Linked DNA regions of Homo sapiens: region 2 is linked to region 1. The links come from fine-mapping of genetic effects on gene expression. A gene starts in region 1. The other region holds a variant in brackets. All regions are shown on one strand. Distances are from middle to middle.

Region 1 (10,467 bases):
CACTGCACTCCACCCTGGGCAACAGAGTGAGACTCCATCTCAAAAAACAAACAAACAAAAAGAAAAACACCAAGCAAGCAAGCAAGCAAACAAACAAACAAAAAACCCAAAAGCAGTTACCCATGTGTAGGTAAATATCACCTACATTCTGATGCATTTTCTTGATTAAGAAAGGGGAAGAATCAGGTAGCACACCAGTAATGGCATGGCATAGCAGGTAAATGCCATTTATTTCTCTAAATCTCTGTATATGAATAGTAGAGATCTCTGGACTAAACTCTAGTCCAATCTCTTATTATCTAGTTTTCCAGAGGGTAATTAAAGTTCTTAAGTATAAAAATTTCACAATTGACTGTGAAGATAAGTTAATCTGGGAACTTACACAACACCCCAATATGTGTTCAATAAATATTTTGTTGGATGACTCAACCTATCATTTCTAATTTATTATATGCTTTTTCTAAAACAGGATTCAAGGCTTAAATGGGCCTACAACTATGGGGTATGATACCGACCTAAGCCAGATGTAAGCTGATGCTATTATTATCTGGAAAGCAAACCTTTAAACCAGAATCTTAACCAAGTTTTGTTATAGGAAATAAGTACTTAGATAGAGAAAACATCATTTGCCTTCTTAAATCTTAAATATTGGCCACTTATTGACACTTATAAAGTGTCAGTGCCTATCTGTGTAGCTCTAACACCTCCCCCAAGAGGTTAGAAAACTGAAAATATAATAAAATTTAACTAAGTCATTCAATGATACAGAATTAAATTATTTGAACACAACTTGCTACCTCCATAAATGTATTGAAAAGCCCATCCAAACATATCTGACTTTTTATTCTGAAATAATATCCTGAACACAGTGAAAAAACATTCTGAAAACTAGGATTTAAGAAACTTATTTACTTAAGCAGTAAAAAGTTCACCTCTATGAAATATTAAGATAAGCTACAAAGCAACAGATATTGTATTGGTACAAGAAAGACAAAGTACTAGAACTGAGACAGACCAACATTTATATGAGGGGACATAACTAACACTACCAGTAGCCTCACAAATTAATGAAGACATGACATACTGCTTAAAAGATGATGTCAGAAAAACTGACCCACACTACAGAGAAAACCGAAATGGGATTCCTACTTAACATCATATCCAAAGATGGACTACATATGGGTTAAAGACCTAAATGTAGCAGATGAAATTATAAAGAGAAGACAATGTAGGAAGATATTTTTGGGAAATATGGGTGAGAAAAAACTTCAACAAATTCCCAAAAGCAATTAACTAGTTTGATTGCATCAAAATTAGTGATTTCTGTTTAACCAAGGGCAACATAAAGTTAATTGACAATGGTAAATTAAAGAAAATATCTGTACTATCTAAAAATGACATAGGACTAATACCAAGAATACAAAACAAACTCCTACAAATTCAGAGGAAAAAATAAGCAACTTTCAAAGAAAAAAAGGACAAGACATGTACAGGCAATTCACAGTAGAGGAAACTTAAAGGACTAACAATCATTGCTACATACAGAAATGCAAACGAAAATAAGATGTTCTTTATTGGCAAAAATTACATGTTAGGAAAGAATGGAGATACGGGAACCCCTTCTTGCTGCTAGTGAGTGCGTAGGTGGCTGAAAGCATTCTGTGGAGCAGATTATTTGGCAGTCTTTAGTCAAAATCGGCATAGACATGCCCCATGGACAGATTTGAGGATGCATACTTTGGCAGTGTTCTTTGGAGGCAAATTTGGGAGAGGTCATCACTAGGTAAAGGGGACAGGTAAATGTGTAGGATGTGAACCATGAGTACTACAGAGCAAGAAGAAACAATGGCCTAGATTTGCACTGTCCAACATAGTAGAACTACCCACATGTGGCTATTTAAACTTAAATAAAAATCAATTAACATTACCCAAAATTAACAATTGAGTTCCTCAGTTATGCTAGCTGCAGCTCAAAAGCTCAATAGGTACTTGTGGCTAGTGGCTACAGTATTAGCCAGTACAGATTAAGAACATTTCTCCTTTCCATCATCATAGAGAATTCTATTGGACATGCTGCCTTAGATGAACACAAAGTATCATGGATGTTTCTTTAAAATAGTGTTGAGAAATGTGACAAATGTAACATTAGGAAGTGAAGTCTAAAGCACACTTAATTATGTAATTTGAAAAATGCATACAATGAAAAAGAGTAACATCGAAGATGTTAAGAGTTATCTGTCAGTGGGAAGGGAACGGCAGTTAGAAATAGGTAACCAAAGGGAATATAAGTAAAATGAGAGATACTTTGTACGGACTGATGCGCCTGGTAAAACCACGTACTAAAGAATATTATTAATCTCCTGTATTTGAGGTCCAACAACAAATGTTGGGGTTAGTGTCAGCCAGAAATCCTGGGGGGAAATGGTAAACTCCAACTCTGATGCCCTCAGGAACAAAAACTGTTAAGGTTGCAAAGAAGGAATTTTTCATATCCCCATTGCCAACCAATTTTCATTTAAAATTAAAATCTTTTTTTTCTGCCTCAATCTCAATTCTACTATGGTACTACTTCACTATAAGCTTTCTTCAGGGAAGAACGAATTGTGACAAAAAAGAACTATCAATGGCCAGAGAATAAAAGGTGAAATAGACCCACTCGATTGCCACCAACATTTTACAATGAGTTACTGTACAATTCCCTTAACAGAGCTATTTTGATTACACAGGGCAAATTCTAATAGTGGGACCAGATCAACTTAACACAATATATGAAATAGTGAATACATTTTTTTGTGTTTCTATTTTCTTCAACAATTAGGAACTGTAAACTGATGATTTCTACCATTGACACATATTAACAAGATAAAAATAAAAGCCTGGGCGGGGCGCGGTGGCTCCTGCCTGTAATCCCAGCACTTTGAGAGCCAAGGCGGGCGGATCACGAGGTCAGGAGATCAAGACTATCCTGGCTAACACGGTGAAACCCCCTCTCTACCAAAAATACAAAAAATTAGCCGGGCGTGGTGGCGGGTGCCTGTAGTCCCAGCTACTCGGGAGGCTGAGGCAGGAGAACGGCATGAACCCGGGAGGCGGAGCTTGCAGTGAGCGGAGATCGCACCACTGCACTCTAGCCTGGGGAACAGAGCGAGACTCCGTCTCAAAAAAATAAAAACAAAAAAATAAAAGTCTGATATAACTTAGCATGGATTTTTCAGTAGAATAAGTTAAAATGTTCTGGAACGATTTTGTCAATGCATGTTGAAAAATCTGAAAATGTTTAGTGCTCAGTAAATTTTCTACCGTTCCCTTAGTCATCTCCATTTTAATTCTAAGCAGACGGAGGTCATTTTAAAACACAATACTAATAGAAAACATATACCGTAAATAATATGTACCAGTCATCAACTCAATTCTCACAACACTGTAAGGTAGGACTATTAAAATCTCCATTTAACAGACGAAACAGAGGTCTGTTAACTGGCTAGCCCAAGGTCACGCAGCTATTCGTGGCAAACCTGGGCCACGAAGCACCACAAAACTATGCTACTTCATCGATCTTCTGATCCATCATCCCTGAGGATTCAGATTTGCATTTACCTGGAGAATCTCACGGTGCCACAAAGTGGAGTTCCCGGTTCGTGGCTTATGAGCCACACTGCCCGCTGCGCCATGGTTAAGTCAGTAAAGCATTAGCTCATCTCATAATTAAGGTCGCCACCGAGGAACAGCGCAGACCGGCTTTCTCAGACAGACTCTTAACAGAAGCCCTGAGGCTCATCCTGCGCCGCATACCGGTCGCGCTCAGCAGAGAGGTTAGCTTTTTTAGGTGAAGTCACTAACGCTTCTGAGTCGCTCTAGGCCAACACACACCACAAAAAGTTCTAAGAACCCCAACCTATAACCTTGAGAAATTTACCTATACCCTGCAACTCCGGTATTTTCTTCCTCTAAATTCTACTTCCGGAATGGTGGCCCGCAAGGATCAAAGTTCCTCATACACGGTAGCGTCGAGCCTTTTTTCGGTTCTTTCGCCGCTCGTTTTATTCGCCGGCCCCTCCCGACAACCTCCCTGGCGCGCGCAGTTCCACTTCCGGCGTATGAGGCGGTGACAATGGGAGCAGCGCGGGCGGCGCCGGGAGGCAGCTGACAAGCGTTTGCGGCTTCGCTTCATGGCCGCTCTCCCGCCCCTCCTGGGATCTGTGGGGAGCTGGGGAGCCCGCAGCGGCCCGGAGCCGGAGCTGGCGAGCCGAGCGGAGACCTGTGCGCCGCGCCTCTGAGGCGCAGCATGTGAAGCGGAGACGGCATCCAGTGGGGGGCGAGCCTCTCAGCCGGCCGGGATGGCTACCACGGCCGAGCTCTTCGAGGTGGGCCCCGGCGGCTCTACAGGGAGTGGCAGGCCCGGGGTTTGCAGGCAGCTGGGTGGGCGGGCCGAGGAGCGGGCGTTTGCTGGCTGCCCAGGAGGAGCCCTCGGGAGAGAGGTGCGAAACAGAAGGGTTGGGGTGGCAGCTCCGTGTCAGCGCGGGCGGAGCGTGAAATGGGGGAGGGGTGCTTGGGGCCGAGGTGGGCTGGGCGGCCGGTCGGCAGAGAGGGGAAGCCGGGTGTCCCAAGGGAGGAGGGTTGCTTTTGTTTGTGGGGGCAAGAGGGAAAGTCTGGAAGGTTCGGGTGTTGGAAGATGTCTACTCCGGATGAGTAGTGGGAAGGGCTGACTCAGGACGAGGAAAGAGAGCCAGGAGCCTCAGGTTGGGCGAGTCTTGTCGCTGGGGTCCTCGCGGGAATAATAGGAGGAAGCCACTTGAGATCGGGACTCTTGGGGGCTTCTCGTTTTGAGTAATTATTCCATTAGTAAGGTTGCAGGTGGCATTCATAGGACTGCCAGTTTAACCTGACATTTGAAAAGGCTGGGACAATTTTTTTTTTTTTGGACAATAAAGGCCTACTTATCTCTTTCGACTGAAGAGAGATAGACTGAAGGGAGGCAAAATTCAAGTGAACACTTTATTTCATGTAATACATAATAATACACTCGAGGCATTTACGTGTATTATAAAATAAAAAAAGTTTATAAAATAAAACGAACACTTCGTTTCATGTATATAATGCACCTTAAGTGTATTATATGCATTTACATGTATTATAAAATCACCTAACTGCAAGCTAGAGAATCCTTAATATGTAATAGTGAGAATACTAATGTCTTTCCTCGAGCGTTTACAGTATCTAAACCTTAAAATTTAATTTCGTGAAGTCCGTTGTAAGAAGCTGTGATAAAAGTTTGAGATAATAGAATAGGAAAACTCTAATTAGGCTACAAAACAATGACACGTATAAAGCATCTCCTTGTGTGAAAGAAATGAAAACGGATAAGAAAAAGGAAAGAAAGACCCCTTTTTTGTGTGTGTGCTTGTGTTTCACATTGAGTAACAAAAGTGTAATAATTGAGAAGACTGTAATCCACAATAGGGAACTTCTCCATAAGTGAAAATGGTATCCTTTTTCTGCGTAAGATTCAGCAGTTTTTGTGGCTTACAATTTGAATGCCACAGTTTTAATAACAAATGGAAATTTACATTTGTTATTGTTACTATATTTTGCATATCAGTCAGCTTTTGGATAGATAATGCTTTTTTTGAGAGGAGTAATATATGTTATTGTTATAATAAGTTGTAATAAGACAGTAATTTGTGAATGAAGGATTGTAATTACAAGAAAGACTTCAGAGATATTGTATTTTCTCACTTAAGTGTTGGGAGATATGCTACATTAATTTCTGTAATTCCAAAATTGTGCCATCTGTTTATTGACACAAGAACGGGGAGACATTTTTCCTGCTAGGAACTTTTACTGTGTCCCTAGGTACTAAGTAGTGCTGTGGTTCCTTGTTTTATTTTTCACATCTTAAAAAGGGAGAAAACGATGAAGTTGTATGAGATCTTTAATTAAGGTATTTGCCGGCAAGCCAGCTCTTAACTGAAAACTGTTATATATGTTGTCATACAGTTCATAAGACATTATCCTTTGAGTTAATCCTGCTTGACAGTTCCAGTTGTACCTTGGACCATCTTATGTATATTTTTATTTAAATGTTTGACCACATGATTTCAGTAACTTATTTGGAAATATGTTTGATTTTTTTTTTTCCCCTCTCCCTAGCGGGGAAGGGGAGGAGGTGGGGAAATATATATTTTGCTTTCTGGGGTCCTGCTATTAGGTTAAGTAGTATATATATACGTTTTATATATATATATATATACACACACACACATACACATATATATATATAACGTATATATAACATACATATATATAATGTAATTTAGTGACTCTAGTTACATGGTAGCCAGTAAGATTCTGTGATAATAGAGACAGTAGCCCTTAGACTACCCTTAGGCCAGAGGGTTTTTAGGACAAATTTAAACGTATTTATAGATCTTAAAACTGACGTGACTTTTTTTCTTGACTATATGTAGCTTGTTGCTTCATCATAATTAAAAGCATAATAGTTACAATTAAGTTTCAATAGTTATAATTAAGAAGTGCATTTATCTTTTCTGGTACTGCTATGAATCCAGCCCTACAGTGGACTCTACTCTTGAGTAAGTTTTCATCCCCAAGTGAAAAGTTGATCTCTTGGCCTTGGAGGGAGGAGGAAAAAAAATCCTGTCACTGCTCAGTTTCCTGTAACTACTGCCATAGCATCTAGGTTGTAGTAAGAGTCACGGGAAGTATCTTTTTCTCCTGCTTCCCTTTCTTAGTCCCAGCTGGAGAACTGTGGAAAACGGAAGGCAGGATGTAGTCAAGGATGTTTGGTTTTTATGCATCCTGATTTTCATGCACTGTTAAATAGAATTATGCTTTCACTTTTCATGTTAGGAGAAGTTAAATGAAAACAAAATTAAGCTTTTGAATCCATGACATTTCATTATGTTAACTCTGCTTCTTTTAAAATCTTATTGGTCCCATGACTCTCAATGAAAACAACTTCATATAACAAAATCAAACTGTAATATATTTCCTCAGTTGACCGAAATGATTTAGTAATAGATGATTTGGCTATTGTAATAGTGTATATCCTGGAAGTTTCTCAGAATACCTTCTTAGTTTCAACTTTTGTTGACAGATCTTTCTGAAAAGATCCATGTACAGTGTTTTAAAATCTCCTCAGGATAGACATTCTGAGTAAGGATTCTTATGTGGTGTAGATAAATTGTATCTTCTACATATACAAAGTGGCTGGGCTCAGAAATTCCTTTTCTTTGTTTTTGAGACAGGGTCTTGCTCTATCGCATAGGCTGGAGTGCAGTTGGGTAATCACTGCTCGCTGCAGCCTCTACCCTCCTGGCACAATCCATCTGCCCACCTTAGCCTCCAGAGTAGCTGGGACTAGAGGTGCCTGCCTCCATGCCCAGCTGATTTTTAAAAATTTTTTGCAGAAATAAGGTTTTACCATGTTGCCCAGGCTGGTCTTGATCTCCTGGGCTTAAACAATCTGCCCACCTTGGCCCCACAAGGTGCTGGGATTACAGGTGTGAGCCACCGTGCCCCGCCAGTTCTTTTTATGTTGTTGCAAATGTTCCTCTCTCCTTTTATTGTACTACTGAGGACATTCTTTCCTCATTTGCTTAATTTTTTCCCCCATAATTCTTCAAGAATCTTCGCTTTTCTCTGTTTGGGCTACCATTACGGGAGAGTTCTTGGTTAGTAACTAGGGTTAATTATTCATTCATTCTACAGATATTTGTTGAGTACCTTTTAAGTTCAAGATAAAGTTCTGAAATTGACGAGGCTGCATGTCTCAAAGGGCATGCCATAGAAATATTAATCCTATGAGATGTGTCGCAAAAAAAAAAAAAAAGGGTTCAGTGACCAAGTAAGTTATGGAAATGAGCATAGTCTGTTTCGTTGGAGATTTGCGGTATACCTTAATATGTTAAAGATGATGAGAAGTCCATTTCCCCAACTTTTTTCACCATGAGACTGTTTTCTTTCTTTTTTAAAGAGACTTTTATTTTCTACTGCTTGTTAACTTAATTTTGTGAATTACAAGGTACATATTTTGGAAAATAGAATTAAGTATAGAACTTGTCCTTATCAAATAGAGGGAGAGAAGGTGGATATATGATACTATACTCTTAAAAATAAGGTTATAAATGGTTTCAAAGAGGTCTAGATGTGCCATAGGTGTTGAGAGGATGGGAAGATTGCCTCTAGAAGAAAGAAAGGATTAGAAGGTGGCATTTGAATTACCTACAGAGGATAAATTAGATTTGAGTTTGTGGAACTGGATGGAGGGACTTTTCAGTAAAGCAGACAATAAAAGCTAAGACATAAAGGGAGGGTTGTAGGCCCTGGAGATAAGGGGAGCATTCATTTTGGCTGGAGTATATATAGCACACATAAAGAGGAAGAGTGGCATGTAAGGTAAATCGGGGTTTAATTTTGGAGGTCCTAAATGCCAGGATTAAAATTTCATTTTTTTTTCTTTCTGTAAATATAGGTTCCTTGATAATAGTGCTTGAGGTCAGGTAATTTGGCTATGATAGCAATGGCTGTTTGACTTCCAAATTAGAGTATGAATATTGAAGAACACCTTTTCCCACATTTATTTGTCTCTTAATTTTTCAAACTAAATTACAAAAGCTAGTTAAACAGAGTTGTTGAAAATGATGTCTCTTGTTCAATTAGCTAGCCAGGTATATACTAACGAACATGAGATACACAAGTAAGGAGCACCCCGTTACTGTCAAGGTGCTGAAATGCTATTTATTTTAACCATATTAGTTGTTAAGTGTTTATAGACCTTGGCTACCAATTGTAGTAACATGGATATGATAGAATGTATTCATTCTGCAAACGTTGAATGAATCTGTAGGCCAGACATTCCAGGTACTAGAGTTAAAAGATGTTGAGTTAAGCATCTGGTTGAGGAAGACAGACATGTTAATACATTAATACAGCGCAGTGGGAGTATAGAATCTTTTCCAGGGATTATTAGGAAAGGTTTCATTTAGTAATGGCATATAGAAATTGGATGTTGATGGATGAGTAGAGATTTTTCAGACAGGAGAAGGGCATTCCAAGGCAGAGACACAAGATGGCTCCAGTTTGTTGTAAGGTGAGGCAGTTGAGAAGAGTTAGGATGTGTATGTGCATATTTTAAGAATAGGGAGTGGTGGCAAGGCATTGAGACCATAGGAGTTCGAGGGCAGTTTTTTTGTTTTTTTGCTTTTTTTTTTTTTTTTTTTTTTTAGGCTGGAGTGCAGTGGCGTGATCTCAGCTCACTGTAACCTCTGCCTCTGGTTTCAAGCGATTCTCCTGCCTCAGCCTCCTGGGTAGCTGGGATTATAGGTGCCTGCCACCATGCCCAGCTAATTTTTTTATTTTTAGTAGAGATGGGCTTTCGCTGTGTTGGCCAGGCTGGTCTCGAACTCCTGACCTCATGATCGACCTGCCTCGGCCTCCCAAAGTGCTGGGATTACAAGCGTGAGCCACCGTGCCTGGCCAGTTTTTTTGTTTTTTGAGACAGGGTTTTGCTCTGTCACCCAGGCTGGAGTGCAGTAGTGTAATCACAGCTCACTGCAGCGTCGACCTCCTAGGCAAAAGCGATCCTCCCACCTCAGCCTCCTGAGTAGCTGGGACTACAGGCATGTGCCACCATGCTTGGCTAATTTTTTATTTTTTGTAGGGACGGGGTCTCATTGTATTGCCCAGGCTAGTCTCCAACTCCAGGACACAAGTGGTCCTCCCACCTAGGGCCTCCCAAGGTGCTGGGATTATAGGCATGAGCCACTGGGTCCAGCCTGGGGGAAGTTTTAAGAAGGCTTTTTATACCTCATGCAAGAGGGCTGACCTTACTTTTTTTGGGTAAGGGTCAGGGAGACAGACAATTTTAATGTTAGTGTGAAGAATGGCCTTCTATGGGGGAAGAAATTGTTAGCTGGGAAAATAGGGATCGTGGGCAACCTGACATAGTTCTTGTCATTTGGTAAGTGTTCCAGAATTATCTGTTGACTGATTAATCTGGCCAGATGAAAGTCTAACCTAATTCAATGGTGACAGAGAAGAAATTTGAAAAGAATTTTGGAGGAAGAATTAAAGGAATTTGATTACTGAGGAGTTAAAATTCCAAATTTGTAAACTTTGAAAAGTAGGTGGTTGGTGATTCATTAACTGTGACAGAGAAAATTAGAAGGACCCTTGCAGGGGGAAGAAATAATATATTCATTAAGTATATATATACACACACACATATATACGTATATATACACACACATATATATACATATATATATACATATATACTTAATGTATATATATACACTTATGTATATATGTATATATGTATATATACTTAATGTATAAATATATACATATATGTATATATATACTTAATATATGTGTATATATATACGTATATATATATACACACACACACACACACACACACACATATGTATTTACACTTTGAGT
Region 2 (10,467 bases), 860 kb after region 1:
ATCACTCTTTGTACCAACTGTTGCAGGTTTGGATCCCTGAGAAAATCTGAGACAGTTTTGCCCACAAAAAGCTTATTAGGAAGTGGAACTGCTCTGGGGACCATCTCTTTTAGGACAGTGAAGGAAGCAGAACTGGGCCAAGGGAGAAGATGAACCACGATGCTACCACAACAGAGGCCTCACTGATCCCATGGCGAGCTCTGGAGCCAGGATGGCCCTGCAGCGTGGTCTCAAGTTGAGATGAGTGGGGCAGGCACCCAGTAAGGGTTGCCCCTTGGAAGGAAGTGTAACCTTGGTCAAGGTGACTGGCTCTCTTTAACCCAGAACAAGTCCCAAACAAGGACTTAGTTAAGAGTTGTCAGCCTTGGGGAGATGGAATGAGTGCTTGAGGCTGCTGGGAGGATCTAGACAGAGAATCATGACATCGTCTACAACGACCTACCTAACACATATGGAGTTTTACAAACCTTAACTGCATAACAAGTCATCGTTTTCAGATTCTCAGGTAAAATTTAGGTGAAATACATCTTTGTAAGTCTCAATTACCCAGCATCTTAAGTTTTCTAGGGGTCTCAGGTTTCAAAACAAACCAAGGTCTTTTTTTTTCCTTTTTAACATAGACAACAAAAGGGGTCCATGTGGCATTTGGAGTAGACAATCCCAGTGATGGTCCTGCAAATGGTCCCAGAATTTCAACCCTCCTGTCTACCCTTCCTTTGCTACTTGGAGCTGAAAGCCACAGCCAAACTCTAAGCAACTCAACATGCTAATAGCCCTATGGTATACATACATGTGTTCTCTGAGCCATACTTTCATGGTCCTGAGCCACTCATAGCCACCCACTATCTGCATTGGGTCTGTAGACAACACACTGATTCCCTCTGGTGCAAAGAAGGAGCATAATAAGCAAGGCCCATTCCTTAGCAAAGAAAAGCAGTTGAATTCGGTGCAATGAAGACAAATTGGCCATAAACTCTGCAAGCCACGGAGGTTATTTCAGTTACTAAATGATTAAAGTCTCTAATCTCTGGAGTGGTGATAAAGAACACCGGAGAAGGGGGCTGGGTTTTTGATGCCTGGGGAAGGTGCAAAAACATCTCTCTTGAGACCATGCCAGAGGAAGCCCACCCCATAAAAGAACCACAGATAAGTAAGACATCATTAATAAATCAATGACAGGAAAATGAAAACGGAAGCAGATGAATCAGCCAGCAGATCGGGTTGTAGATGAAAAACAGCACATCTGTTGCTGCTGTCGGTGCATTAACAAATAAGTCTGCTGGATCAGATGGTCTTTCACGCTAATACTTGGAATAATGAAGCTTCAAAAGCGATTAAACCATAAATCAATTTTTAAATGTATCTTGTAACTCCCCCAAACAACAGGAGGCATATTTTTCCTTGCTTGAATTCTTTTTGGCAGGCATCGGAAGGTGCAGGGATAAAAAAACAGTGCCTCATTTTGGCTCTGCTGTGAGGTACAGGCACACAGCTAATTTAGTGTTTAGCCTCACGATTTGATTCTTACCAGCTAAAGGCACCGAGCTGTGCTTCATCTATATGTTAAATCCAAGCCAATGCATTTCAGCCTGAGCAGTACCCACCCGTCTTCTTGTCCAAGACAGCTCGGTTCTAGTGCCTGTTCCTCTTCATGCAGCTATTGATTTACATTTTATTTTGTTATTTTTGAAGACTTCAGCAAAATTAGCAATTGAGGTGGTGAAGTATTTTTCTCCTTTGAAGCATAACTCCTCCTTTTCTTCTATACTGAAAAAAAAGTTGCTTCTCTCTAATGGCAGAGTGGCCTGGTTGTAGGACATTAAGGATGGACATGAGTGGTTAATTTGGCAAATTCTACATCCATGTCCAAGAGGAAGAGATGTGCTCTCAACATAATTTTTTTACTTAAAAATGTTGGGACAATAAGGAAAGAGAAAAGGGAAAGGTTCAGGCTAAGAGAGGCAGACAAGGCCAGAAAGGACATAGGGTCACAGATCAGAAAAGGAAATCAAGTTTTGCTCCAAAATTTCTCTGAAAAGCAGAAAATCCTGTGAACTGACCAATAAATGAGTTCTTACTGAATAAGACAAATGGGGAAGAAATAGGAAGAAAGAAGGAAAAAGAAAGATGTGTAAGAAGATGAGTAGAAATGGTGAGAGGAGAACCCAGGATGAGGCAGAGGGAAACCAGGCCATATTTCCTCTCAGCGCACGGCCTTTGCTCCACATTACACCTCCTAACCAGCCCGGGGACAGTTGCACTCCAAGGAAGCAAACTGTTCCGTTCTTCTTCTTCTTCTCCTTGAAACACAATGGCTCTTTCAGGAAACAAACAAATAAACAAAAGCTAGGAAGAAACTATTTTGTTTACTTTGTCACAGAAAACAGGCTACCCTTGGGTCAGGAGATAGGGTATTCTGAGTTCATTTAGAATAGCCAGCAACACCCATGTTTGGTGAGAAGATGCCAAAAAATTATACCAAGTGGAAACTTTTATGTTAATTAATGAGTGACAATCAAATAAAATGATCAAGGCTCATACAAACATTTCCAGAAATAAGCACAAAGGTAGACAGAGGCTGTTTTTTTTTTTAATCATTGTAGGATCTGACAATATAAACTTTTCATATTAGATATTACCTATATACAGTTAGAATCCAAACCAATTGGAAGATTCCTTGGTCACCTGATAACTTCAAATGAAGATATCCAGAAAATTTAGGGACAGGTGATATCCTATAAACCAAGGTTTCTCAAACTTTTATGTGCCTACAACTATCTGAGGATCTTGTGGGAATTCAGATTCTAGGGAAACATTTCTGGAATGGTAGAGTAATGACCTCCAAAAATAGACTTTTCCATAAGAAGCAATAAACATCCTGGCAAAAATAGTCAAAATCAATTTTTTTCAGAATTGTGGAAATTAGCCAAAGGTATACAACACTCTGAGGTGCATTTCTTCAAGAAAAGCAGCTGACTATTGGTAAAAACAGCAAGCTTTGTGACATTCTAGCTTGCCCTATCCCCATTCCCTTCTCCACAGTTTCATAGTAGTCTCAAAAGTGAACAGCCTTACAGCCATGGTAACTGTAAAAACAGCAGCCTAGCAGTTACTGAAGGAAGAAGAATGGGTTTGGAGCTTAAGTCTAAAGACACTCAAGATTCAAAAACAAATAAGTGAAAGGAAGGAAGAAGATCTGCTATGCAAACAGTAACCTAAAAAGAGCTGGAGTGGCTATAATATTAACAGAAAAATCGACTTTAAGACCATTGTTACTAGAGATAAAAAGAACATTTTATAATCACAGAATGACCATTCCATCAGGAAAACATAACAATTACAAACATGTATGTCCCTAATAACAGAGGCCCAAAATACATGAATGATTAATAGAATTGAGGAAGAATTAGATTCAGCAGTAATAGTTGTAAATTTCAATATCCCACTTTTAATAAGGGATAGGCTGACAAGGCAGAAGATCAACAAGGTAATGGAAGACTTGAACAACACTATAAAACAGCTAAACATAACAGAAATCTATAGCACACTCCACCAAACAACAGAACACACGTTGCATCAAGCAAACACTCAGCATTCCCCAAAATAGAACACACGTTAGGCTATAGAAAGAAGTCTCAATAATGTTAAAGAGATGAAAATCATAGAATCTTCTATGACACAATGGAATGAAATTAGAAATCAGTAATGGAAAGAAATTTCAGGAATTCACAAACGTGAAAATTAAAAGACACACTTCTAAATAACCAATGA[G/A]TTAAAGAAGGAATCACAAGGGAAAGGAAATAATACTTTGAGATGAAAAAAAGAAAACCACAACATATCAAAACTTATGGAAGGCTGCTTGCCTTAGTCCATTTTGGTTGCTATAACACAATACCACAAATTGGGCAGATTTTAAGCAACAGAAATTTATTTCCCACAGTTCTGGAGCCAAAACAATCTTGAAAAAAAAAATAGGAGGATTCATACTTCCCAATTTTGAAACCTATGACAAAGATCCAATAATTAAGACAGTATGGTACTGGCATGAAGATAGACTTATAGATCATTGAAATAGAATTGAAAGTGCACAAAGAAGCTGTTAATTAATGGCCAATTGAATTGTGACCGAAGTGTCAGAGCAATTCAATGAGGGGACGAACAATCTTTTCAACAAATGGCGCTAGAACAACTGGATAGCCACAGGCAAAAGAAAGAAGTTGGTCCCTTTCATCATGCCATATATAAAAACTAACTCAAAATAGATCAAAGACAAAAATGGAAATACTAAAACTACAAAAGTTTTTTTTAACTATTAGTTTCAGGGGTACATGTATAGATTTGTTATATAGGTAAATTGCATATCATGGGCACTTGGTGTACAGATTACTCATCACCCAGGTAATATGCATAGTATCTGATATGTATACCCTCACCCTCCTCCCACCCTTCATCCTCAAGTAGGCTCCAGTGTCTGTCATTCCCTTGTTTGTGTCCCTGTGTACTCAATATTTAGCTCCTATTTATAAGTGAGAGCATGCAGTATTTGGTTTTCTGCTCCTGCATTAGTTAGCTTAGGACAATGGCCACCAGCTTCATCCATGTTGCTGCAAAGGATATGATCTTGTTCTTTTTAATGGCTGCATAGGCTTCCATACTGTCTATGTACCACATTTTCTTTATCAAGGCTACTGCTGACAGGCCATTAGGTTGATTCTACGTCTTCACTATTGTGAATTGTGCTGTGATGAACATGGATGCGTATGTGTCTTTAGAGTAGAAAAATTTATATTCATTCCTTTGGGTATATACCCAATAATGGGGTTGCTGGAATGAATGATAGTTTTAAGTTTGAGAAATCACCGAACTGCTTTCCACAACGGCTGAACTAATTTACATTCCCACCAGCAGTGTAGAAGTCTTCCCTTTTTTTTTTGCAACCTTGACAGCATCTGTTGACTTTTTAATAATAGCTATCCTGATGGGTGTGAGACGGTAGGTATCTCATCGTGGTTTTGATTTGCATTCCTTTCATGATTAGTGATGTTGAGCATATTTTAATATGCTTGTTGCTTTTGTGTATGTCTTTTGAAAAGTGTCTGTTCATGTCCTTTGCTCACTTTTTAAAGGGATTGTTTTTGGCTTGTTTAAATTCCTTATAGATTCTGGATATTTGACGTTTGTCAGGAGCACAGTTTGCACATATTTTCTTCCATTCTGTAGGCTGCCTTTTTGCTCTGTTAATAGTTTCTCTTGCTTTGCAGAAACCCTTTAGTTTAGTCCCATTTGTCAATTTTTGTTTTTGTTGCAATTGCTTTTGGCATCTTTGTCATGCAATCTTTGACAGGGCCCTTTACAGAATAGTATTTCCTAGGTTGCCTTTCAAGGTTTTTAAAGTTTTAGGTTTTACATTTAAATTATTAATCCATCTGAAGCTGATTTTTGTATATGATGTAAGGAAGGGGTCCATTTTCAATCTTCTGCATATGGCTAGCCACTTGTTGAATAGGGAGTTCTTTCCCCATTGTTATTGACTTTGTTGATGATCAGATGGTTGTAGGTGTGTGGCATTCTTTCTCGGCTATTACGTTACATTGGTTTGTGTCTATTTATGTACCAGCAGCAAGCTGTTTTGGCTACTGTAGCCTTGTAGTATAGTCTGAAGTCAGGTAGTGTGACACCTCTTTGTTCTTTTTGCTTAGGATTGCTGTGGCTGTTCGTGCTCTGTTTTGCTTTCATGTAAGTTTTGAAATAGTTTTCTAATTCTGTGAAGAATACCATTGGTAGATTGATAGAAATAGCATTGACTCTAAATTGGTTGGGGCAGTATGGCCATTTTAACATTATTGATTCTTCCTATCCATGAGCATGAAGTGTTTTTCCATTTGTTTGTGTCAAATCTGACGGTTTGAGCAGAGTTTTGTGATTTTTGTGGTAGAGGTCTTTCATCTCCCTGTTTGGCTGTATTCCTAGGTATTTTACTCTTTTTGTGGCTATTGTGAATTGGATCACGTTATTGGTTTGGCTCTCACCTTGGACATTGTTGGCATATAGAAATGCTACTGATTTTTGTACATTAATTTTATATCTTGAAACTTTGCTGAAGTTGTTTAATCAGATGTAGGAGCTTTTAGGCAGAGACTATGGGATTTTCTAGGTATAGAATTATATCATATGCAAACAGAGACAGTTTGACTTCCTCTCTTCCTATTTGGATGCTTTCTTTCTCTTGCCTGATTGCTCTGGCTAGGACTTCCAGTACCATGTTGAATAGGAGTGGTGAGAGTGGGTATGTTCTTGTCTTGTTCTCAAGGGGAATGCTTCCAGCTTTTGTCCATTCAGTATAATGTTGGCTGTGGGTTTTTTGTAGATGGCTTTAATTATTTTGAGGTATGCTCCTTCAGTGCCTAGTTTATTAAGGATTTTTAACATAAAGGGATGTTCAATTTTATCAAGTCTTTTCTGCATCTATTAAGATGATTATGTGGTTTTTGTTTTTAGTTCTGTTTATGTGAGGAATCACGTTTATTGATTTGCATATGTTGAACCAAACTTGCACCCCAGGGATAAAGCCTACTTGATCATGGTGGATTAGATTTTTAATGTGCTGCTGGATTCAGTTTGCCAGTATTTTGTTGAGGGTTTTGGCATCTACATTCATCAACAATATTGGCCTGAAGTTTCCTTTATTTGTTGTGACTCTGCCAGGTTTTGGTATCAGGATGATGCTAGCTTCAGAGAATGAGTTAGGGAGGAGTTACTTCTCCTCAATTTTTTGGAAAAGTTTCAGTAGGAATGGTACCAGTTATTCTTTATTTGGTAAAATTTGGCCATGAATCCATCTGGTCCTGGGCTTTTTCTGGTTGGTGGGCTTTTTATTACTAATTTGACTCCAGAACTCCTTATTGGTTTGTTCAGAGATTCAGTTTCTTTCCAGTTTAATCTTGGGAGGTTCTTTGTTTCCAAGAATTTATCCATTTCTTCTAGGTTTTCTAGCTTGTGTGCACAGAGGTATTCATAGTTGTCTGAAGATTTTTTGTATTTCTGTAGGGTCACTGGTAATGTCCCCTTTGTAATTTCTGATTGTGTTTATTTACATCTTCTCTTTTTTCTTTATTAGTCTAGCCAGAAGTCTCTAAATCTTATTTATTCTTTCAGAAAACTAACTCTTGGATTTGTCAATCTTTTATGTCTCAATTTCCTTCAATTCAGCTCTAATTTTGATTATTTCTTGTCTTCTGCTAGCTTTGGGGTTGGTTTGCTCTTGTTTTCCTAGTTTCTCTTGGTGTGATGTTAGGTTGCTAATTTGAGATTTTTTTTTTTTTTTTTTTTTTTTTTTTGGAGACAGGGTCTTACTCTGTCATCCAGGCTGGAGTGCAGTGGTATGATCTCAGCTCACTGCAACTTCTGCTTCCTGGAATCAAGTAATCCTCCCACCTAAACCTCCCAAGTAGCTGGGAATACAGGATGAGCCACTGTGCCCAGCTAATATTTTGTAGAGATGGGGTTTCACTATGTTGCCCAGGCTGGTCTTGAACTCCTGGGCTCAAAGCAATCCACCTGCCTTGGTCTCCCAAAGTGTTGGGATTACAGGTGTGAGCCACTGCATCTGGTCCTCTAACTTTTCACCATCAACTCTACCTTTTAACACTACTTTAGCTATGTCCTGAGGTTATGGTATGTTTTATCTTTGTTCTCATTAGTTTCAATTTCTTGATTTCTGCCTTAGTTTCATTGTTTTCCCAAAAGTCATTCAGGAGCAGGTTGTTTAACTTCCATGTAATTGTATGGCTTAGAGTGATTTTCTTAGTATTAATTTCTATTTCTATTGCACTGTAGTCTGAGGGTATGGTTGGTATGATTTTGTTTTTTTTTTTAATTTGCTGAGAATTATTTTATGGCTGCTTGTTGTTTGGTTGATTTTAGAGTATGTGCCATATGCAGATGAGAAAAATCTATATTTTTTGGAGGGGTGGAGAGTTCTGTAGATGTCTGTTAGGTTCTGATATGGTTTGGGTCTGTGTCCCCACCCAAATCTCATTTCAAATTATAATGCCCAATGTTAGAGGTGGAGCCTGGTGGGAGATGATTGGGTGATCATGGGGGTGGGTTTCCCCTTTGGTACTGTTCTCATGTTAGTGTGTCAGTTACCATGAGATCTAGTTGTTTAGAAGTGTAGCGCACTGCACTCAACTCTTCCTCCTGCTCTGGCTGTGTAAGACATGCCTGCATCCCTTTTGCCTTTTGCCACAAGTTTCCTGAGGCCTACCCAGCCACGCTTCCTGTACAGCTTGCAGAACCGTGAGCCAATTAAACCTCTTTTCTATATAAATTACCCAGTCTCAGGTATTTCTTCATAGCAGTGTGAGAATGGACAAATAAAGGTCCCAAATATCTTTGTGAGTTTTCTGCCTCGGAGATCTGTCTAATATTGTCAGTAGGGTGTTAAAGTCTCCCACTATTATTGTGTAGCTATCTAAGCCTCTTTGCTGGTCTCTAAGAACTTGCTTTATGAATCTGGTTTCCCCCTTGTTGGATGGATATATATTTAGGATAGTTAGGTATTTTTGTTGAATTGAACCCTTTACCGTTATGTAATACCCCTCTTTGTCTTTTTCAATCATTGTTGGCTTGAAGTCTGTTTTGTCGGAAATTACAACATCAATCCCTGTTATTTTCTGTTTTCCACTTGCTTGGTAGATTTCTCTCTGTTCCTTTATTCTGAACCTATGATTATCATGAATGTGAGATAGGTCTCTTAAGGCATCATACAGTTAGGTATTGCCTTTTTATCAAACTTGCCACTCTGTCTTTTAATTGGGATATTTAGCCCATTTACATTCAAGGTTAATAATATAGGTTTGGCTGTGTCCCCACCCAAATCTCATCTTTAACTATAGCTCCTACCATTCCCATGTGTGTGGGAGGGACCCACTGGGAGAAAATCTTCACAAACTATGCATGCAACAAAGGACCAATATAGAATCTACAAGGAATTCAAACAAATCAGCAAGAAAGAAACCAAATAATCCTATCAATGAGTGGGCTAAGGACATGAATAGGCAATTCTAAAAAAAAAAGATATACAAGGCTGGACCATGGCAGCTCATACCTGTAATCCCAGCACTTTGGGAGGCCAATGTGGGTGGAACGCTTGAGGCCAGGAGTTCAAGATGAGCCTGGCCAACATGGTGAAACCCTGTTTTTACTAAAAAATACAAAACTTAGCCAGGTATGGTGGTGCATGCCTGTAATCCCAGCTATTCAGGAGGCTGAGGCATGAGAATCACTTGAACCTTGGAGGCGGAGGTTGCAGTGAGCCAAGATTGCACCACTGCACTCCAGTCTGGGTGACATAGTAAGATTCTGTCTCAAAAAAAAAAAAAAAAAAAAAAAAGGAAGGTATGCAAGTGGCCAACAAATACATTCAAAAATGTTGAACATCACTAATTATCAGGGAAATGCAAATCAAAACTACAATGCAATACCACCTTACTCCTGCAAAAATGGCCATAATTTAAAAATAAAAAAATAATAGATTTTGGCATGGATGTGGTGAAAAGGGAACACTTTTACACTGCTGGTAGGAATGTAAGCTAGTACAACCACTATAGCAAACAGTGTGGATATTACTTAAATAACTAAAAGTAGATCTACCATTTGATCCAGCAATCCCACTACTGGCTATCTACCTGGAGGAAAAGATGTTATTATATGAAAAAAGACACTTGCACATGCATGTTTATATCAGGACAATTTGCAACTGCAAAAATATGGAACCAGCCCAAAGGCCCATCAATCAACGAGTGGATAAAGAAAATGTGGCACATATACACTATGGACTGCTACTAAGCCATAAAAAGGAATGAAATAATGACATTCACAGTAACCTGGATGGAATCGGAGACCACTATTCCTAAGCGAAGTAACTCAGGAATGAAAAACCAAGCATCACATGTTCTCACTTATAAGTGGGAGCTAAGCTATGAGGATACAAAGGCATAAGAATGATACAAATGGACTTTGGAGACTCGAGGGGAAGGGTGGGAGGGGGGCAAATGATAGAAGACCACACATTGGTTACAGTGTACACTGCTCAGGTAATGAGTGCACCAAAATCTCAGAAACCACCAGTAAAGAACTCATCCATGTAATCAAGTACCACTTGTTCTCCCAAAACCTATTGAAATAATAATTAAAAAAGAAAGTGAAAAGACAATAGCAAAGACATAGAATCAACCCAGGTGCCCATCAGCAGTGGATTAGATAAAGAAAATGTGGTACTTATACGCCATGGAATACTACACAGCCATAAAAGAACAAAATCATGTCCTTTGCCAAGACATGGATGTAGCTAGAAGCCATTATCCTAAGCAAATCCTAAGTAACAGAAAACCAAATACCTTATATTCACACTTGGAAGTGGGAGCTAAGCATTGGATACACATGGACACAAAGGTGCGGTTAGAC

Direction of the effects. Alleles are on the strand shown, and positions count from the first base shown. SD is a standard deviation of normalised expression in the study named.
In carriers of allele A in region 2, the expression in caudate of the gene that starts at base 4,081 in region 1 tends to be lower than with G alone (moderate effect, 0.75 SD a copy in GTEx).

The links. PIP is the estimated chance that this variant, and not a neighbour inherited with it, causes the effect.
Region 2: its variant is fine-mapped to the expression of EXOC5 in caudate (GTEx, PIP 0.99).

What each region holds. Positions count from the first base shown.
Region 1 is chr14:57,262,519-57,272,985 of GRCh38, reverse strand. It overlaps EXOC5 (exocyst complex component 5), which reads left to right and starts at 4,081. Exons shown (of 18, transcript NM_006544.4): 1 at 4,081-4,364. The coding sequence starts at 4,338. It overlaps AP5M1 (adaptor related protein complex 5 subunit mu 1), which reads right to left and starts at 4,015. Exons shown (of 8, transcript NM_018229.4): 1 at 3,598-4,015. The coding sequence starts at 3,671. RefSeq lists enhancers at 3,851-4,050, 3,698-4,281 and a silencer at 4,591-4,650.
Region 2 is chr14:56,403,593-56,414,059 of GRCh38, reverse strand. The region is part of intron 6 of LINC02284 (long intergenic non-protein coding RNA 2284); the gene reads right to left. Among named protein-coding and RNA genes, the nearest start is that of LINC02284, 98 kb to the right of the region's middle. RefSeq lists an enhancer at 1-395. The variant G/A (reference allele first, on the strand shown) is at 3,772.